Linked DNA regions of Homo sapiens: region 1 is linked to region 2. The links come from fine-mapping of genetic effects on gene expression. A gene starts in region 2. The other region holds a variant in brackets. All regions are shown on one strand. Distances are from middle to middle. Region 1 overlaps CAMK4 (calcium/calmodulin dependent protein kinase IV). Region 2 holds the start of SLC25A46 (solute carrier family 25 member 46).

The links.
Region 1: its variant is fine-mapped to the expression of SLC25A46 in monocytes (Fairfax 2014, PIP 0.95). The same link has a PIP of 0.9 or more in monocytes after LPS and monocytes after interferon gamma.

Annotation. Positions count from the first base shown.
Region 1 is chr5:111,470,022-111,480,853 of GRCh38, forward strand. CAMK4 (calcium/calmodulin dependent protein kinase IV) reads left to right here. Exons shown (of 11, transcript NM_001744.6): 8 at 3,290-3,365; 9 at 8,360-8,486. Among named protein-coding and RNA genes, the nearest start is that of STARD4-AS1, 37 kb to the right of the region's middle. The variant T/C (reference allele first, on the strand shown) is at 5,666.
Region 2 is chr5:110,734,168-110,744,999 of GRCh38, forward strand. SLC25A46 (solute carrier family 25 member 46) reads left to right here and starts at 4,840. Exons shown (of 8, transcript NM_138773.4): 1 at 4,840-5,235; 2 at 7,880-7,922; 3 at 9,563-9,620. The coding sequence starts at 4,953. It also overlaps a transcript of TMEM232 not described here. RefSeq lists enhancers at 4,423-4,472, 4,723-4,852, 4,863-4,932, 6,177-6,678, 6,679-7,178.

The sequences.
Region 1 (10,832 bases), 740 kb after region 2:
ATGGAGAAGGACTAATGCAAGTGGAATATGCATGCTCAATATGTGTGCATTCGGCTCCTTGACTGGAACATCTCCTAGAGACAAAAATAGGCAATAGCAGCCTTCCTGCAATGGCAGCATAATCTGAGTTCCCCTTTACAAGGGAAAGTTCACTGTCAGGGCTGTTGTGCTCAAAGACACTTTCTGTGGGGTACAGATTGCCCCAGAGAATGAAAGCTAACCTGACAGAGTGAATGATGGTAGTTCGTATCAGCCATGCATGTTTCTTAATTTTGTTAATTAAACCTTAAAAGAAAAGTTTTCTAGGAATAATTCATCTGTAGATTAAAAAAAGCTTTTTGGCTACAGATACAGTTCCTTAAAGGGTGCATCTTGCTGAATTGCTGTGTAGAGTGCTAGAATGCACACCTTCCTTTCACCATACAGGTTCTTTATCTCATATAGGGAGCACTTCAAAAAGTTTGTCAAAAAATGGTGAAAATGATGAAAAATATAAACTTTATATCTCAACATAAACTGCATCAAGGTCAAGAGACTTTTGTAAGTGATAACAGCAGCCATTTAGTCTATCCCTAGAGAACTGAGGGATAACCATGTCAATGCAGTCTTTTTTACATTATTAACTGAAAAAACAATAAGTGTTCCTTATAGAAATTTTAAGATAAAGAAACAAAAAGAAGTCAGAAGGAACCAAGTTACTACTGTAAGGTAGATGCCTAATGATTTCCTATTGAAAGTCTCATCAAATTGTCCTTGTTTGATAAGAGGAATGAGCATGAGCATTTTTGTGGTGGAGAAGGATTCTCTGGTGAAGGTTTCCTGGGAATTTTTCTGCTACAGCTTTGGCTAACTCTCTCAAAACAGTCTCATATGAAACACGTTATTTTTCTTTGGCCCTCCAGAAAGTCAACAGGCAAAATGCCTTGAGCATCCAAAAAAACCATTGCCATGACACTTGCTCTTTACCAATCTGCTTTTGCTTAGCCTGGACCACTTCCACCTCTTGGTAGCCATTGCTTTGATTGTGCCTTGTCTTCAGAATTATACTGTTGAAGCCATGTTTTATCTCCTGTAACAATTGTTTGAAGAATCAGGCTCAGGATTTCAATCCCACTTGTTTAAAATTTCCATTGAAAGCTCTATTTTTGTCTGCATCGATCTGGATGCAACAGTGTTGTCACCCATCGAGTGAAAACTTTGCTCAACTTTTAATTTTTCAGTCAGAATTGTGTCAGCAGAACTCACAGATGTCTGTGATGTTGACTATTGTTTCTGCTCTTGCCAGTCCTCTTCAATTAGGCCATGAGCAAGATTTATTTTTTTCTCAAAAATTGATGTGGATGATCTGCCACTGTGGGCTTTGTCTTCAACATTGTCTTATCCCTTCTTAAAATGAGTTATCCACTTGTATACTGTTAATTTCTTTAGAACATTGTCCCCACAAACTTTTTATAAAGCCTCAGTGATTTCGCCATTCTTCCACCCAAGCTTTACCATAAATTTGATGTTTGTTCTTGCTTCAATTTTAGCAGAATTCATGTTTCTCAGATAGAGGCTCTTTTCAAACTGAAGTCTTAGCCTTTTTAGTGTCTCAGACTAGATCCTGTTTGGACATGTTATGACAAGTTAGTACAAGTTTATTTTGGTACAAAAAATTGTGAAATTCATGCATAATTTTTTATAATATGCATTTACCATGACCTTTTGAAGACTCCTCATATTTTATGTAACCCAGCTTCTACAGGGAAATTGGAACATGATGAGAGTTAAGGGATAGTTAGGGAAGAGGTCAGTGGAATGCCCACAGTATTCCTTCCTGTATGGTAAATCCACAGTCCCATGAGGATAGCCTCCCTCCAGAGCTCACTTATTTATTTATTTATTTATTTATTTTTTGAGACAGAGTCTTGTTCTGTTGCCCAGGTTGGAGTGCAGCGGCGCCATCTCTGCAACCTCCACCTCCTGGGTTCAAGCTATTCTCCTGCCTCAGCCTCCCGAGTAGCTGGGATTACAGGCACCTACCACCATGCCTGGCTAATTTTTTTGTATTTTTAGTAGAGACAGGGTTTCACCATGTTGGCCAGGCTGGACTCAAACTCCTGACCTCAGGTGATCCACCTGCCTCGATCTCCCAAAGTGCTAGGATTACAGGTGTGAGCCACTGTGCCCAGCCCCAGAGCTCATCTTGATAGGCAACACTGAATGTGACATTTCCAGCCAGCATGGACAGAGAATCCTGTTTACTTGCATTCCAACCCCTATCCCAGAGAATGGTATGGTGTCCTCATCCCCAAGGCCTTCCTCAAGCAGCCATCAGCATTAATCAAGAAGCTCCTTCTTCAAGTACGCTGCTGGCACCTGCCGCACTTGTGTTCAAAATCAAGAAAGGCCACTCTGGACAATAGGCCTGAGCTCTATTTCTCCATAGATGGTGGGGCTCTTACTTTCCCTTTTCTTCTGTTGTTAATTAGGCAAACAAATAACACCCTTAGTACTCAGGGAAAGTGCCTGGATCCAGTTAATTACCCATTTTCACAAATCTAAGGTAATAAAAATATAAAAGATACTGCTATTCTCCACACCAGGGCTATTTTATGGCTGAGAAAGCCTTCCTTTTTCACAACAGCGGGCAGAACTAATACAAGCTGCTTCACTGTGCACAGATAAGTTCCCCTTTCTCAGTTCATGACCTCAAGCTGATTGGGATCAGCTGCTCTCTGGAGACCTACATGCATCTCTCAATGCCAGGACATGTGCCAGGACACCTCCTAGCTCCTGCTGCAACCGTCTAGACTAGATACTTGTCAACCCTCCTCACCACCTACACTGGTTCCCACCCTGCACACTGTCAGACCCACACACTCGCTGACACACCCTGCTCCCAGCAGGTCTAGATCTCAAGGCAGCATGCTTGTGACTTTTTTCTCCCTTGTTATGCTTAACTTTCATTTCTTTGTTTTCTATGTACAAAACTCCCTTTGAAGTATTGCGTCTTTTGTAGCATACATACAGCTCTATCTACTTGATTTGAGCAGTATCATGATATTCTGACATAGAATATTAAAGTTAATAGTGTTATTTTATGCATCCCAAAACAGATAGACTATAATCTCTCCTACTAAAATAGACATAAGTATTTATAGCTTCATACTGTGGTTTGGGGAGAGAAGATTGGTTATAAAACTGTTCAGAAATTGTTTTGATGAATTTATTTCTTTCCCATTGCTTGATATTAAAATATAAATATTGACTAAGCTCTAATTTAACACAATTTTCACTTTTTCTGCAGCACCTGAAATTCTTAGAGGTTGTGCCTATGGACCTGAGGTGGACATGTGGTCTGTAGGAATAATCACCTACATCTTGTAAGTGAAGAAAAGCAATATTTATGTAAACTATTTACCTTGCTGTGACATTTTCTAGATACCTCTAATGCTCATAAAAACCATAAAGATTACTTTTTGCCTTTTTGTGATTTTCTGTTACATACTAAATGCAGTTAGTGATAGAATTTCCTGAAAATGAACATTGCTTTTTATTTTGGAATTTTCTTGAGACCGGAATTCTTGTCCAGGGCTTTCCTATGTCTATATCCACTATGTAATATACAGCAGATTTAGGGAACAGTTTATTACTTGACACTAGTAAAGAATATGAGCCCAAGACCAGCTGTGTAAACTTGCTCTTGTTTTACTTATTTGCATCTTATATGAAATTATTAGATTTAGTCCTTTTAAATGGGCAAATGACTATTTAATTTCTTAAGCAATTCCAAACTGGTATATTTCTTATCAGGAATATTTTAAATGCATTTTTAGCTATCAATTTTGTTTCTTATTTCTGTTAGGTTTTCAAGGGTCTTAAATTTAACACCCTACACAAATTTCTTGGGAAAAAAAATGAGTGAAATATTTTAATCCCTGGTATCCCCACATCCATTCCTGAGCTCCTGTCTAATAAGAAATAAGGAGTTTCATGAAATTTGCCAAAGACATGGTGGAACTGCAGGTGGTGATGAAAAAAATCAACCAAATAGAAGAGCGTCTGAGATGGAAGAATACTGTAGAACAACTAGAAAATAAGATATCGATGCTTTCAAGAGTTTAGTTCAAAACAAGGAGACTTAGTTGCCATTTAGAGAGTACTACAAAGTTAGTTGTTGGAATGCATAATATTCCAATTTAGAGAAATTTTGAAGGGTTTGAAAGTAGGTATACTAGTCTACCTGGGCTTACATAACAAAATATATAGACTGGGTGGCTTAAATAACAGAAAGTTATTTTCTCACAGTTTTCGGGGGCTGGAAGTCCAAGACCAGAGTGTCAGCACAGTCAGCTTCTGCTGAGGGCCCTCTCTTGGCTTGCAGATGGCCGCCCTCTCACGGTGTCCTCACATGATGGGGAGAAGGAGAAAGCAAGCTCTGTGTACTCTTTTCTTATGAGGGGACTAATCCCATGAGGAAGACCCCACTCTCATGACCTCATCTAAACCTGATTGCCTCCCAAGGGCTCCATCTCCAAATACTATCTCATTGGGAGCTGGGGCATCAACATATGGATTTTGGGGTTGGAGGGGGGAATACAATTCAGTCCGTAGCAGAATGCTTTTAATTAAAGTTGTTTTTAACTTAATAGTGATCTTAAAAAATTCAATATCCAGGTGATATGGACTAGGAATGGGCTAACTGTGGTAGGGCCCACAAGCACGTTAGCAAACTCTAATTTACCTGATATACAATGGTTGATCGCCAAGACAGAAAGGTTTAACAAGCAACTGATAAAATAGCCATCCACTAATATGTAATACAAAAAGATATTTTGTGTGCTCAATTCCTTGTGTCTTTAGAAAAGCTTGAGAGGGGCCGGGCACAGTGGCTCACACCTGTAATCCCAGCACTTCGGGAGGCCGAGACGGGTGGATCCATGAGGTCAGGAGATCGAGACCATCCTGGCTAACGTGGTGAAACCCCGTCTCTACTAAAAATATAAAAAATTAGCAGGGTGTGGTAGTGGGCGCCTGTAGTCCCAGCTACTCGGGAAGCTGAGGCAGGAGAATGGCGTGAACCCAGGAGGCGGAGATTGCAGTGAGCTGAGATCTTGCCACTGCACTCCAGCCTGGGTGATAGAACTCCGACTCAAAAACAAAAACAAAACAAAACAAAACAAAAGAAAAAGAAAAGCTTGAGAGGAATTTGGAGAGATAAAGATCCTGTTTTTGTCCCCAAAATGTAGGTTTGCCCCTAAAGTATAAATATACCCAATTTAGGTACCAGTGTACCAACAATTGGTAGGTACATTGTTGAAATGTACTGGGAGGCATTAAGTATTAATGATATGAAAGAACTTGGAGAGATGGAAGTAGGAAATTAAGTTACATTTACCCAGAAAAATTGGAATGTGGAATGCATAAAACTTAATGATATCACTGACATGGGAAAATGAAGGGAAAAATATAATTACTTGAGAAATATTTTATTGTAACCCTGAAGATAGTTCTAAAAATCTGTCCTATCCCCTAGTCCATTACCAAATTATGCAAACTATTTTATATATTTCTTTTATCTTTATACACTTTAGGTAATTAATTAATAGGTTTAGTTGAAAGTAAGAGTGGTAGCCTCCAAAATGAAAATAACAGTGCTGCTTACAACTAATATTCTTTAGTT[T/C]TTGGCTAACTTCTGTCAGGCCCTAAGCCTGAGGACGTTTTATTTACTCTGTAGTTCTTTAATAATTGGTGAAGTCCACTGGCACGGTCGACTGGCACATTTTCTCTGGTGGGTTGTGCTACTTGATCTCTGTATCTTCTTTATTAGATTGGTTTAATGTACATTTAGTGGCCTGCTGGGCACCTGAGACTATGACCTCTAACATCTCACTCATTTCACCAGAGTGGCTTGGAGACAGACACAGTAGAGTAGAGAAGTAACCAAATGAAGAATTAGAACTAAAGATCCATTTTGTTAATGCTTCCTGGGAAAGTAAATCTTACAATGAAGCTACGTTATAAGCTTCAGTCAGATTCTTTCTTCTGTCTTCCAAATGTTGAGGCATTTGCTTTACTGATACTTGTCTGTATGTACATAAACTCTGGGGCTGTTTTTTTTTAATAAAGCCATGAATAGACATTGGATTCTTCCTATCAGTGTAAAGAATTCTGTTACCTCTTTTGTCCCTCTTCTTGTGGCTACTGCTGCATTTTAACTTCACTCTTTGCTTCTTTGTGTGTGTGTGTGTGTGTGTGTGTGTGTGTTTGTGTGTGTGTGTGTGTGTGTGTTTTGAGATGAAGTCTTGCTCTGTCTCCCAGGCTAGAGTGCAGTGGCGTGATCTCGGCTCACTGCAACCTCCGCCTTGGGTTCAAGCAATTCTTCTGCTCCAGCCCCCCGAGTACCTGGGATTACAAGCACGTGCCACCATGCCCAGCTAATTTTTTGTATTTTTAGTAGAGATGGGGTTTCACCATGCTGGCCAGCCTGGTCTCAAACTCCTGACCTCCTGTTCCACCTGCCTCAGCCTCCCAAAGTGCTGGGATTACAGGTGTGACCCACCGCGCATGGCCCACTCTTTCCTTCTTAAGAGTTCTAGCTTGTCACCACCAGGCTATTGATGGGGCCTTGCTATTTCTAAGAATGCCATTAGGCTGAAAATGAAGGCCATTCTATTTTTCCTCCCAGGAATTCTCATATCTTTACCTTTTATACCTAAACCCTCTTCCCCTACAGACAAAAGCTGCAGGACTGGGCCTTATGATCTGATCAGAAATCAGATAACATCAGAGATTCAAACTCTCTCCTTCAGCTTTCAACACTACAGTTCTGCCCTAAGGCTTGAAGTTGTCACCTTTTACCTCTGTCACCAAAGCAAAAAGTCACTGATAGGAATGAAATGAGAGAAAAGGCATTTGAGCACTATAACTCTTCAGTGGTCATTTTTGTCTCTAGATTTTCAGAAGGGGAAATATAAGGAAACTCCTAAACTAAGTCTAGGAAGCTGGCTCATTTCTCCATGACTAACTGCAACAGGCCATAGGTTTCTAGTGTTGTGGAGAGCAGGGCAGGGCAGGCAAGGTCAGACTCTCTCGTTGTCAGGGTGAGGACATGTGCCCTGTCTCACCTTAGGCTGCTCTTCCACAGGTGGGTCAGGAGCGGGATTCTCTGTGCAGACTGCTCAGTAGGGAAAGGGAGAACACATTGGCCCAGGGGTCTGCACTGTCAGGCCTTGCATTTTTCTCACTGGCTCCAGAATATCTGGAAGAGACAAACATTCTCCCAGTGGGACATTCTGTGAGTAAAAGGACATACGAAACTGCTTCTTTCTAAAAACTCACTGTATTAGGATGCACTTTAATTTTTCATGCTATGTACCAACCTGGCCAGCTTGAGTGAAGCCTTTGGGAAAATGTCTTTTATTCATCCTCCCTCCCACCCTCATTTTTTTTCAAATGGAACACATGCAACACATGCCCTGCCATGGGCTTTTTTAAGCAGTTCCCTCTTGGTCCCTACTGATTTTAGAACTTCCACCCGTCTGTAAACAGTGGATGCTTGGTGGTCACAAACAACTCGCTTTTCCTTTCTCTCTTGTTAAGATGCCCAAGATAGTTCTCCGTCCCTTTTATCCCACTTTTCCCATTCATTTTTAAGTTGACTCCATAGTAGAAAATGATACAAAGAATGAGGTAAATTGAGGGTGCTCATCTCTTTGGCTGCATCTGGTGACTATATTAATCTTATACATTTTTTAAGGTCATTGCCTGACAATAGTTTCAGCTTCTGTCTTTGTTCACTCTGAAATCCAAACTGGAATGGAATGGAAATGTCATAAAGCTTTACTCATTTCTATGGAGGATTTCATAGAATAGGGCAGAATAAAAATAAGTGAAAATTTCTAATTTCCACTTTTTAATTTCTTTACTCTCAAAATCCCAGCTCTTCCCTTTCACACTAAATTGGAAGTCTATTCAATCTCTGTCTGCCTGTCTGTCTGTCTTCTCAATACCTGTCAAAAAATCCATGGAAAGGCTTTAGCATAATGTCTATAATGTTAGCTATTATTATTATTGTTCTTCTGTGTAATAAGAATTATAATAATAATTATTATTACACAATAATTATAATTATTATTATAGCTTTTTGTAGAAATCCTAAGTTGGTTTTATATTAATTCCTACTTCCTGAGGACTTGATTGTGTGTTTACACTATAAATAGTGAATTGTAATAAGGCAGTTGCATACTTAAGCTGAGTAGACTTGCTTCCATGGCAGGAAGCAGTGAAAAAGAACAGTCCTGAATTCCTACAGAAATTGGATGAAATATACTTGAGCTTTTAAAGACATTTTATTCTCTATATTTTATTCCTCTAGACTTTGTGGATTTGAACCATTCTATGATGAAAGAGGCGATCAGTTCATGTTCAGGAGAATTCTGAATTGTGAATATTACTTTATCTCCCCCTGGTGGGATGAAGTATCTCTAAATGCCAAGGACTTGGTAAGTGTAACCAAAACAAAATGAAACAAAATGAAATAAATTTATTTTTAACTAATTAATGGGAAGTACAATTTTTTAAAATTTTACCCATATTAATGCCATATTTTCTTTCAATTTTAAAGTATTTTAATAAAATTAGTTCATTAATACATTTTCCTTAGAGAATAAAAACTAGATATGTTTTTGACTCATCACTAGTTGAATTATCATAAACTACAATTACTACAGTATTAATGAGCTTTTACTACCTTATAAGTATAAAAACCTTGCTTATGAAGAAAGCTGTGCTGGGTGAATTCAAACACAATTTACACAGAATTCTGTTTTAACATGGCTTGCAATTGCCTAGAATTTAGATGTACTTCATTTCTTTTTTGTTTCTTTGTTTTTGAGACAAGGTCTCACTGTCACCCAGGCTGGAGTGTAATGGCATGATCATGGCTCATTGTAGCCTCCAACTCCTGGGCTTAAGCAATCCTCCCACCTCCATCTCCTGAGTAGCTGGGACACAGGTGCATGCCACCACACCCAGCTAATTTTTAAAAGTTTTTTGGAAATATGGGGTCTTGCTATGTTGCCCAGGCTGGTCTCAAACTCCTGCCCTCAGGCGATCCTCCCACTGTGGCCTCCCAAAGTGCTGGGATTACAGATGTGAGCCACTGCACCCAGCCTAGATATACTTCAAGTAAAACAATACTGCTTCCTGAAATTTCATCAAATTTATTAAAATATCCTAATAGTAACGTAAGTCCCATTATGCATCATTGGCATTATAAAAATGTTCCACTGTGTTAATAGTTCATTTTGTTTGTTTGTTTTTACATTGCTTCTCACTTAAGTTAATATTGACATTTGTTTGCATTCAGGAAATCCATACCTTCTGGGGAGGTCACTCACCTCTTATAAAATAAAGAGGATGCTAACATGAGATTGAAACATTTCTCATCAATCCACTAGAGAACAACCACACAGACATAATCAAAAGCTGACTTTTGAATCATAGAAGGTTAGATATAGAAGAGGTCTTAGGAGGCATCTAGTCCTCCTCTCATTTTAAAGATGAGAATGCTAAAGACCAGAGAGGTGAAATGACTGCTAAGGTCACACAGCTTCCCAGCAGAAAGACATTATTAGGGCTGATCCAGTCGTCCAGACTCCCTTTCCTGTGCTCTTTTTTCTTCAAGCATTTCTTCCTTACCCTCTGTGTTCCTTCATGGAACAGATTCCCTAAGGCTCATGGCTTTTCCAGCATGAGTGGGAAGAGAAAGTCAGTGTGTGTGATGTGTGATGTATAAATATGTCATTGCAACTCCTTCCTCAAGTCATACCCCATGCTCCTAAACACCTCTTGAATCCATCCAGTTCTCTCCCCCGGACCACTGCCCCAACCTCCTATCTGACCTCCCTGCCTCTTCTCATGCCTTTCTCAAATACAGTCTGTACAGGATCCAGAGGGATGGTCTTATAAATAAATCGCATCATGTCCTTGTCCTGCTTTAAGAATCTTAGGATAAAATCCAAAACCCATAACAAGATCTACATGACGCTGCCTGGTCTGGGGCCTGCCACTCTCTCCTGTGCCATCACTCACTTCACATCTCTCCCCTTTGATCACTTTTCACTCTAGTGCACCACACTTCTAGTTTCTCATCAGCATAGCTCAGGATATTGCCATGGCTCTTCTGCTCTGTAATGTTCTTTCTTCCTCCCCACCTTCTTCTCCATTACACATAGGCATGTAAACACACACACACACACACACACACACACACACACACACACCCCTGGGTAACTCTTATTCTCAAGCCCCAGCTGCCACTAGATATCCCTTGGGAGGCATGGTCGGCCTTCCCCTTCAGTCCCTCCCACCTATAGTTGGTTCCTTCTGCCAAAATCTTCCTTTACCCCCTGCACTCCCCAGTTCATAACAGTCATCACTTATATATTTAATGGTCCTCCTTAATTAGATTTTAAGCTCTGGGGCAGGACAAAGCGTGTGTACCCAGACCTTAGAACCACATAGGCATATAGGACTGACTCAGTAAATGTTTATTGGATGAAACAATGGATCTGGAAGTACACCGTGAAGTTTCAGAGTCTGACACACCTGGATTTAAGTGCCCCCTTTGTCATGTCCTGGAAGTGTAACCTCAGGCTCATGATCTAACCTTGCTATGCTTTAGTTTTCTCATCTAGGATGATAATTGTACCTATCTCTAGGTCGTTGTGAGAATTAAGGAACATAATATATGTTAAGTAACTAATATCAACTAACTTAATAATAGTAATCTTATTTAGCCCTCCTTCCATTTCTTTTCACCCTTAATAAATATTAAGTGAATAAGA
Region 2 (10,832 bases):
TTCTCATTCACTCCTCTGCGTGCAGGTTGGCTAGATTTTGGTGATGTTGGCTGGGTTCACCTGGGATTGTCCCCAGAATTCCAGCTGGGTTCAGGTCTGCTCCAAATATCTCCTTCTGGAGCCCAGAGTGAAGGGGTAGTGGTTATTCAGGAGGTGCTTCTCATGGTTATGGCAGAAGCCCAAGCGGGCAAGCCAACTGAGCAAAGCCTCTGTTTGGGTCACACCTGCTAACTAACACCTTTCTGCCCAAGGATATCACTCTACCAACTACCCAAAGGGCAGGAAAGTCCACTCTGCCCATCATGAGGCTATGACAAGGGTATGGACATACAGTATAATACTATGGTAGAGGGATGAAAAATTAAGTCCAATAATTCGGGAATCACCATCTTCTGAACATAAATGCTATAGCCTATCAAGTAGAAAAAGAATAAACTCGGCAATTAAGAAAATTTATACCCAATTCACAATTTAAAATATTCTTGGTTGCTTCCATTTACTGTGTGTGTCCCATTAAGTGTGTAGATGTTAAATATGCTTTGCCTAACTTCCCTAACAATGTAATCAGGATCAAATGCACCATAGTGGATTGTTATATCACATCATTTTACAAAAACAAAAGAAAACAAAAACACCTCTATTGTTTGAAAGATATTTTTAAAATTGCTTATTTCAAGTTATTTTACATGTAAAATATTTAAAATATTACTAAATTTCACCTTTTAAAATACTTACCAGGCAGGGCGCAGTGGCTCACTCCTGTAATCCCAGCACTTTGGGAGACCGAGGTGGGCAGATTGCTTGAGCCAGTTCAAGACCAGCCTTGGCAACACAGTGATGCCCTGTCTCTAAAAAAGATATAAATAAAATAGTGTATAGTTGCATCACAGTACCCAATACAGTGGTTTACACATAGTAGGTGCTTAATATATGTTGCTGAGTGAATTCTTGAATAAAAAATATAGGTGATTTTTATTTTATCCTGTGAGCTGAATTTATTTAGCATCAGAATTTTTGAGCAAAATGTTAACATAAATGAATGACTTGCTTGCTCTGCACAGGCACTTTTGTTTGGTAGGACCATAGCATTCTGTGCCAACTCTTGAAAACTGTTGAAACAATCTGCAACTTTTCATTTGTATTTCAACTCAACAATAATAATGACTGGACTTTCGAAAATATGTATTAAGCCCGTTGGGGGGTGGTTATACTATTTCTATCATATTATTTTCAAGGAAAATTAATCCTTTATTTACTAAGGAACAAAGTAAAAAACTATATTATTCTGTTAATATTTGGGCTAAAAATTTCCTTATTATTAGTTTTGGTGCCTAATAATATCCTCCACCCATTAATTGTTATATAGTGATTTAATATTTTAGTCATTTTAATGATATAAATGCTATTGTTTGATAATCCTCCCTTTAAAAGATAGAGTCAAATCCTCTTCCCCTTTAAGTGCAGGGTTGGACTTAGTGACTCTCTTCCAAAAAAATAGAACATGGCAGAAGTGATGAGGTGTAATTAGGTCATAAACGACATTGTGTTTCCCCCTTGCTGTCTGTCTCCCAGCTGTTAAGTCATAAGGACATTCAAGATGTTCTATGAACTTCATGTGGCAAGGAATTGAAACCTCATTAACAGCAATCAGCAAGAAATAAAGACATTCTTTCTATAGCTGTCTGAGTAAGAGATCTTAGAAGGGGATCCTCCAGCCCTAATCAAACTCAGTCATGTCTAAAATGACTGCATTCCAAGTAGAAGTCTTAACTAGAACCTCATGGGAAACCTAAGGCAGAACTATCCAGCGAAGCCACTCTGAAATTTTTAAATTACAGAAACTATGAGATATTAAATGTTGTTTTAAGCTGCCCAATTTGTTATGGGGGTAATTCATTGTGCCACAATAGAAACTAATACAAACATTCTGTTGTTTTCATAAAATGCATTGGCCACTTTATAAATTCATGTTTTAATTCCTGTGTTATGAGTTTCTCAAACTAGTTTGAAGCAATAAACTCTGGACGATTTCAGCATAATTATTTTAGAAATATTTTGGAGAAATACAGGATGATAGAGCTTTCATAGTGCTCTAGAGACTACTGATTAAATGATATGAACAGATTTAGTAATCTAGAAAGATCTTTATTGCTGTGTCTGCCCATAACCAAATTTGCTCTAATTTTTTTCTAAAATAATTTTTCTTCTTACAAAAAAAAGCTAAGTTTTTAGAGCAATTAAATAAAAAGTGAAACTATGCAAGCCCGTGCTCAGACATAATACTATCATTTTAGCACATTCTTCTATTGTGTATCTTTAGTAGAATTTTTAAAAGGTAAGTTCATACTGTACATGTTTTAAATTGAACATGAATATTTTCATGTCATTTAATACTCATCTCTAATGTAATCTATAAACATCTTCACTCTAAACCCTTCTCATCTCCATTACACTATCACTCGAGATGAAATTATTACTATTTTTTGCCTCAGCTGCTTGCCTTTAGTAGGTGGAAGCCTTTACTCTTCCCCATACAGAGCCAGGTGGATTCCTATAAAACATCAATACAGTCACATTACTCCTCTACTCTCAAAAAACCTAAATTTTGTTCACCACCGACAAGGCTTTGCAAGATCTGGCACCTAGCCTCCTTTCAGCTCTCATTTCCTATCACTTTCACCCTTTCTCACTGGCTACCTAGTTTGCTATCGGGGCGTTTCTCTTGCTCAGCTCTGCCTGGAAAACTTCTCCCACATATTCACAAATGGCTCACTCCCTCACTTCATTCAGTTCTCTGCTCAAAGGTCACTTCTTCAGAGAGGACTTCCTTATTCTAAAAAAAAAAAAAAAAAGCTTCCTTTATTGCTCACTTAGGCTTTTTTAATACAATCATGTCATTATTTGACATTGCACTATATTTGACAGGATATATTTATCTGTTCTTTGTCTCCCTAAACTAGAATGTCAGTTCTAACAATGCAAGCACCTTGTCTGGCTTATTTATCATTCTATCCTTATTGCTTAAAATAGTATCTGACACGAGATAGGTGCTTAATAAATATATTTTTGTTAAACAACTGTATGGATATACACTTTAAATAATAAATTATTAATCAATAATAATTATTTGATATTTGCATTCCTGCTTATTTTTTTCCTATTATGAGCAAGCATGCCATAAACATATGTATGTTATCCATGCCAGAAACATGTAAAAAACCCCTATATTTGTTTTCTAAGATTTTGGAGTCAAAAAATATGGTTATTTTTACAGTTTTTGATACATAGTGCCAAACTGCTCTCCATCAGAAAGTTATGTTTTATATCACTTCAGAAATTAATGAAAGCTACTTTCTTCTCACCTGGAAAGACAATGTGCATTTTCCCTTTTAAACACCTTAATACGTGAAAGATAATTAAGATTTACCTTTTTTCAATTAGTAAAGGACTTTTTATATGATATTATCTATTTACACTTCCTTTTTTTGTATGAATTGCCTCTACATGTCCTTTGCTCATATTTCTGATTTGCCTTTATTCATTGGTATGAACTCTTTGTACATTAAAGCTACTGTTCCATTGTTTAAACCATGTTAAAATGTCATTTTTCTGTTTGTGATTTGCCTTTCAATTGTGATTACTATATATTTTAAAATTTACTATATGGACATTTAAATTTTATACAGTCAAGAGACTCAACACCTTTGCCCAAGCTGCATCGCAATCAAATTTAAGAATGTCAATTCGTTATTTAAAAATGTTAATTATACATTTTAATGTACGCTATCAAAATATCTCATGTAACCCATAAATATATACACCTACTATACACCCATAAAAAATAAAAAGTGATAAAACCACAGAAAAAAATGTCAGTTCAATCAAAACAAAGTTGATTATCACTCTCAATCAAGGTTCGCATCTGGAAGATCGAGAACTGCACGTCAGAGTTCTCTTGGAAAAGCTCTAGGAATCCTGGGCTTCCAACGAGTTGAAGGAACATAGGATGAAACCATGGAAGTCTTCCTCAGATCTGGGGAGGGAGCCTGGCCCAAGAGCCCGTGGAGCTAATGAAAACAGGTAGTAGGGGACGCTCTACAGTAGTCCTCTCAGTTATTCAATTAGAGGTCCCAATTTTGAACGATATAACTGGGATTTCAATACCCTGAGTGATTTAGACACATCAGAAAAAAATACGACAGAAAACTATAGTTTCTTTACAGCCTTAGAAAAGGAAAACGCGTAATTTCTAACTCCAGGAGGACAGTATTCGAGTACGTGGGTTTCTTTCACCCCCGACGTGCACTTCAACTTTTAAAATGCTTGCTCTGGTGGTCCACAGTACTTTCGCGTTCACTGGGCGGTACCATATCTCTCAATAGATTTGATCCAAAACCCCAAGTGCGGGAGACAAAGCTAGGTGGAACGTTATTAACCCTCCACAACTCCAACCTCTACTAGCTTCCTCGGAGCAGGCGAGGCACCAGGCCCGTGAGAAAACACTGAGATCTGGGGCGTAGCTGTGACATGGGGTATTTCTGGCCGGGATCTCACCGGGTAGGCTCCACCCGCGGGTTATCGGCTCCCTCCAAGAAGCATCTTTGAACTCCTCCCATGCAGGCCCTATTCCTACACCAGTTCTCTTTCTGGAATCTCTTTGGTACTGTGTTTCATTAATCCCACAACCATATTCCCACCTATTCCCTAACGACAACAAACTTTTAAGGTCCAGGTTACCGCCGCGTCTCCCTAGCAACCGTGCCCTTTAATGGTTGCCGGAAGAGGCTATAATCACGTGCTCCGAAGACTTCCGGGTTTCCAACGTGACTTCCGGTTGTCAGAATTTACCCCTGACGCGGCGGCGGCCGACGGGAAGCTGTGTGTGCTTAGGTCGTGGTGGCCCCGGTGGTGGTGGGCTCCGGGCGGGCTCGCGTCATCCTGCCCCCGCTGCGATGCATCCGCGGCGCCCGGACGGATTTGATGGCTTGGGCTACCGGGGTGGTGCCCGGGACGAGCAGGGCTTTGGCGGCGCCTTCCCTGCAAGGTCCTTCAGCACCGGGTCGGACCTGGGCCACTGGGTGACGACTCCCCCAGATATCCCCGGCAGCCGCAACCTGCACTGGGGCGAGAAGAGCCCGCCCTACGGCGTGCCCACCACCTCCACCCCGTACGAAGGCCCCACGGAGGAACCCTTTTCCAGTGGCGGCGGCGGCAGTGTGCAGGGGCAGAGCAGTGGTGAGAAGCATGGGGACCGACACAGGGATGAGGGGTTACTGGGGCCGCGGCTTGCGGCCTGCAGACCCCGGAAGCGGCGCAGAGGATCCCGCCTCCTATTCCTTCTCATCCTATCGCGCGCCACACCCTTTGCCCTCCTTTGGTCCTCTGCCCCTGAGGCTGGCCTCCTCTTCCTCACAAACGAATTCTCCTGGATCAACTCCAAAAAAGACATCTGCCTTAGCTATGGGGTGCATAGCAGGAATTTTTAGAGGTTTTGGTGTCTCAACTGATGGTCTGAGTTAAAAAGGAGATTGGATTATTAACTGTTCCCTGATTCACTTTGGCAGCTCTATTTTCTTGATTTAATTAATTAATTAATGTGTTTACTTGTAGTTTTGTGTTCTGAAAAGAGAAGCCTTTCAGCATAAGCATACTTGGGTTCAAACTTGGTTGTGCCACTCGTAATCTGAACAACTTAACCTCTGTGAGCCCTCAGTTTTCTCATCTTTAAGATGTGTAGAAGAATCCTGTATGGGACACATAGGCTAAAAAAAAAAAGTTTCCTTCCTTTTCCTTTTTGAACACAGGAGTTTTGTCTGCTTTTCAGATCCCCAGTCTAGAAAGTTTCCTTCCTATAATTTTCCTTTCTGCTTTCCTTCTGCTGACCTAAAAACTACATATAAAAGTTAGAAACACTGATACAATTTCAAGATAGGACTTCGGAATCATGACATAATTATTCTCCATGGGATGTCAGAAAAGCTGCAACACTGCATGATGTAGATATTTTCAACATCCTTTTTTATTCATAAAATGTGAATAATGGCTACCTCTTTCTATTCTTCTGGAATTGTTAGAATAATAGATTAATGGTATTAATATTAAATTTATTGTAGAAATCAGCTTTATTCTTATTTCCTCGACTTTGACTTGGAAGTACAATAATATTTAACTAAGAAGAACAGACTAACGAATGTCTAGTGAGTAAATGAGGATGTGAAGAAAGATAGATGACTTACCTAGCTAATTGTCATACAATTAGCTTTTTGACTCTTCCCGGTTTAAAGTTATGCTTTGGTGGTTACAATGAGGAGGAGTTCCTTGACACAAGCAGGGGTTTATTTTGCAGCCTTAACAGGTGGGTGAATGTTAATTTTGCAACAAAGATAGACACCTAAGAGACTTACACAGTAAACAAGATTAAACCTTCCTAACACCTTCCAGAAAATGCTAGTAGCATTTTCTGTTGCTATTTGGGGATGATCTATACATACAAAATGGGTAAGGCCGGGCGTGGTGGCTCACGCCTGTAATCCTAGCACTTTGGGAGGCCAAGGCGGGCGGATCACGAGGTCAGGAGATCGAGACCATCCTGGCTAACACGATGAAACCCCGTCTCCACTAAAAAATAGAAAAAATTAGCCGGGCGTGGTGGCGGATGCCTGTAGTCCCAGCTACTCGGGAGGCTGAGGCAGGAGAATGGCGTGAACCCGGGAGGCGGAGCTTGCAGTGAGCCGAGATCGCGTCACTGCACTCCAGCCTGGGCGACAGAGCGAGACTCCGTCTCAAAACAAACAAAAAAAGGTAAAATCTAAGGTAAAAGTACCGTAGGTGGGTAAAAGAAGCTTTCTATTTAGCTTATACATTTTTCTAGGGTAAACTGCGTAATTTCCCAGGAACATGCTTAGGTGGCCTTGTTCTGATTGAAAGGGAATAGTGAGGGCAGTTGCTTCACTTGAAAGAGAAGAGGAGAGAAAGAATTGTAACTTGTGAATATTGTATTATAGTTAGAATTTGATGTCTGGTCCCCTGGGGTTGTAATAGTTCACCACTATGACTTTGAGTTTAGTCAAGAAGAAAGGCTTTTCTCTTTTGACATATGCATAGGAATGTTCCCAGCTGTGAACTTTTCCAGTAACATAACAGACATACCATCTGTAGTAGCATTTAGGTATCCAGTAACCTACTCCAATTAATTAAACAGCTAGCCTCAAACTATTTAAAACTTGAAGAGATGGGGGAGAGCTGTATTTACCCATTTTGGTTATCCCTAAGTACCCTTTCAAGTTAATAATTTAGAGGTGCTTTACTTGTAGTTATTGGTTTAATAAAGTGCTCTCCGTCAGTAACAGTGAATAACTAGTTTTACAGCATAAGAGGTAAAGTCGCAGGTGGAATATCAGCTGCGGCCAACCATGGAAAATTTTTTATTTGATTGGAATCAGAAGCTGAAAACTGGTAGCCCTTAGGTTCTGTCCGGATATTTGTTTCATTAGGCCAAGACAATGTGTTAACAGTTTTTGAAATAGTTGTCCAGGACTTTAAAATTGGAAGCTTTTATATAAAATGAGAATATCTTTTTTTGAAAAAATTACAACTTCAAAACCCTGGGCCCACACTCTAATGTGGCAACAATGAATTGGAGTGAAAGCGTAATTGTGCTTTAAACACTCTACACCTTGCAATTTGCCACAGACCCCAGCAGAGTCCTTCATTCATTTAAATTATTTACCTGGCCCCTATCAGAATTTGACTTTGAGGTTTAAATGAACAGCAGGTTAATAAAATAAATTTTTTAAAATTGTTTTGAGACTAAACCTAAATTGTCAGTAATTGGTTATCAGTAATCTTATTTTTTTATTTCTATTTTTTTTTACTTTAGAACAGCTGAATAGATTTGCTGGATTTGGTATTGGACTTGCAAGGTAATGTTTTATCTAAAGACGTTTACAGCTTTTATTTATTGAATTTAGAGTTTTTCTTTAATTTACAATATTAAATGATTATTATTGCTTCCTTTAGGTTGTTTCTTTGAAGCAGCAGCTTAAATTTTGAATAATATTTTGCAGAAAAAAAATGACCATTATTTAAAATATATAATTTGATAGTTTTTCCAGTAAGGATAGACTAGTCATCCAATTTTATAAACACAAAGTAATTTTGTAATGAGTATTGTAACTGTTTTCATGGGTCTATCCAAAAAATAAAATGAAGTGTAATCTTATCTCTCTCCCATCAAAATAATAATTTAGAATGGGGTTCATGAAGATCAAATGGCTCTGCTGATAAGAACTTTTTTCATAGGACATTTTCTGAAAGAAAAATTACATGGCATTTAATGATGCCATGTAACTGACGTGTCATTTCCCACATCAAACATACAGTGATCTAGTTTCATTTTATACCGTAGATATTAATATTGTGTATTATATATTGTTTCCCTTACTTACCTGTTTGCAGATCTGGTTTTCATTCTTTTCATGGGTCTATCCAAAGAATAAAATGAAATGTAATCTGTCTGTCTCCCATCAAAAAAGTAATTGTGCATGGAGGCTTCTTTCTAAACACTCTAATGCTTACAAGATATTTAGCAACATAGCATCTAGATTTTGTTCATAATCAGCGTTTGGTGATAGCATTACTTTTTTTTATATCTAACGATCATTTTAAGAAAATCCTTTAGTCTTGATTATTGTGATCCTTAGTGAATACCATTTTCAAAAATATTGGAATTGCACAAAGCTTACATTTCATGCCATAATGATCATTATTTTAAACATTTTAACGAAGAAAAACACCTTATTTGCATAATTAAACCCGAGGGTGTTAATGTCAATATAAATAAAATCTGTGTTTTCCATTCTGCTGGAGTTGTTTTTTGCTTCAATATTTATACTTAAAGCTTTGATTCATTTGATAGACTATTATTACATATAAATATGTGTGCACATGTATGTATATGTCACTCTGAGACCTGAAACCCACAGCTGTAATTGTTTTGTGGGGCACATTCTCAAAATAAATATTTGATACATAAATATTAGTCAATTAACATGGTCATTAAGAATCTTATAATTTAAGATTTATACTTAAATTTATACTTAAACCTTATAATTTAAGTGCACCAAAACCAAACATTTTTAGAATGGGGTTCATGAAGATCAAATGACTCTGCTGATAGGAATTCTGTTATTAGGACATTTTCTGAAAGAAATAATTTGCAGCATTAAATGCCATTTAATTGATGTGCCATTTCCCACATTAAACATTCAGAGATCTAGTTTCATCTTATACTATAGACATTAATATTATGTATTATGTATTGTTTCCCTTATTTACTAGTATGCAGATCTGGTTTTCATTCTTTTCATATTGAATTTCGTTATGGGTAGAATCATTTGCAAACATTTCTAGACATTTTTAAAGATCTATTTAATTTGTTTAAGAATGGAAAACATAAAATAATGCATGATTCTTCAGGCAAGAATAATTTCAGAAAGATACCTGTTGTAAATTTAATTTATCTCTATGTAGACATACATATACATAAATTATTTTTATATAGTCTCTTTACAGAAAATGTATTGGCACATCCTTGCATTGTTCTACGCCGCCAATGTCAGGTAAATGTAATTTCTGTGATCTTTTGAAGCAATACTTCTGACCCTAATATGAAGGGCAGAACTCACATAAATGACATGAAACCAGGTAATTGTTACTTCATGTGAAATGTTCCAAACTTTTTGGTCTCAAAACCTCTTTAAAGTCTTAAAAAAATATTGAGGATCCTAAATAACTTTGGTTTATGTTGGTCATATCTATTGATAGTTACCATTTCAGAAATTAAAATTGGGAAAATTTCAATGCATCTATATAATTCATTAAAATAATAACACCTGTTAGTAAGATAATATGTTTTTATGAAAGTAACTATTTTGCATTTTTGCAAATATCTTTAATATCTGACATAATAGGAGAGAGCCAGTTTCTCTCGTATGCTTCTGCAGTCAATCTGTTGCATCACGTGGTTTTTGAAAGAAGCAAGGAAGTTTAGTCTTGTACACATGTATAGTTGAAAGCAGGAGAGGAGTATATTATATTCTTTTGAGATAATTGTGGGTATTCTTTGCAATTGCACCAAAACTCACTGTGTCGCAGTTTCTTAAAGGTTATTTGCAATGTGAAATCAGAAATCATTTTAGTGAACTTTTTATACTTTGTTACATTAAAAAATCCATTTAACTATACTGCATCTTGAATAGATATTTTTACTTATGCCTGATTCCATGTAATTGTGCATAAGTTATTTGAAAAATATTGACCAATTGAGTTACATAGATCTTCCTGTTGTTAAAACATTTGATTATAAAATATCAAAAAATCATCTTCATTAAAAATACTACTGATCTCACTAGAAAAGTCTATAAGTATTGTCAGCTCTTGACGATGCATATAGATTTTCCAAAATTCTGAGTTTTAGTTGAAAATTCAAACTTATCATTGACAGTAAATACTGTTATTTATTTTTGTTTTAATCAACAATCTCACTTTGTTTATTTTTTAAAATATGTCTGTCCTGAAAGTGAATAGGTATAGTCCGTCAATGAGTTTTTCTAAGTAAAAATGATGTTCCGTGAAAAAAGTGGCTAGTTTAGCTTGCAGTTCTATCATACAAGTGCTTTCCTCATGACAGCAATCTTACTTCCTTATGTAACACACAGGATATTAATTAGAAAGAGGATGTGTACTCAAAGGTCAAGGATTCATAAAATTAACATTTTGTTACTTCATTGTCAAGGATATTACTATATGAAGGTTGCTTTTTTCTCTCTATG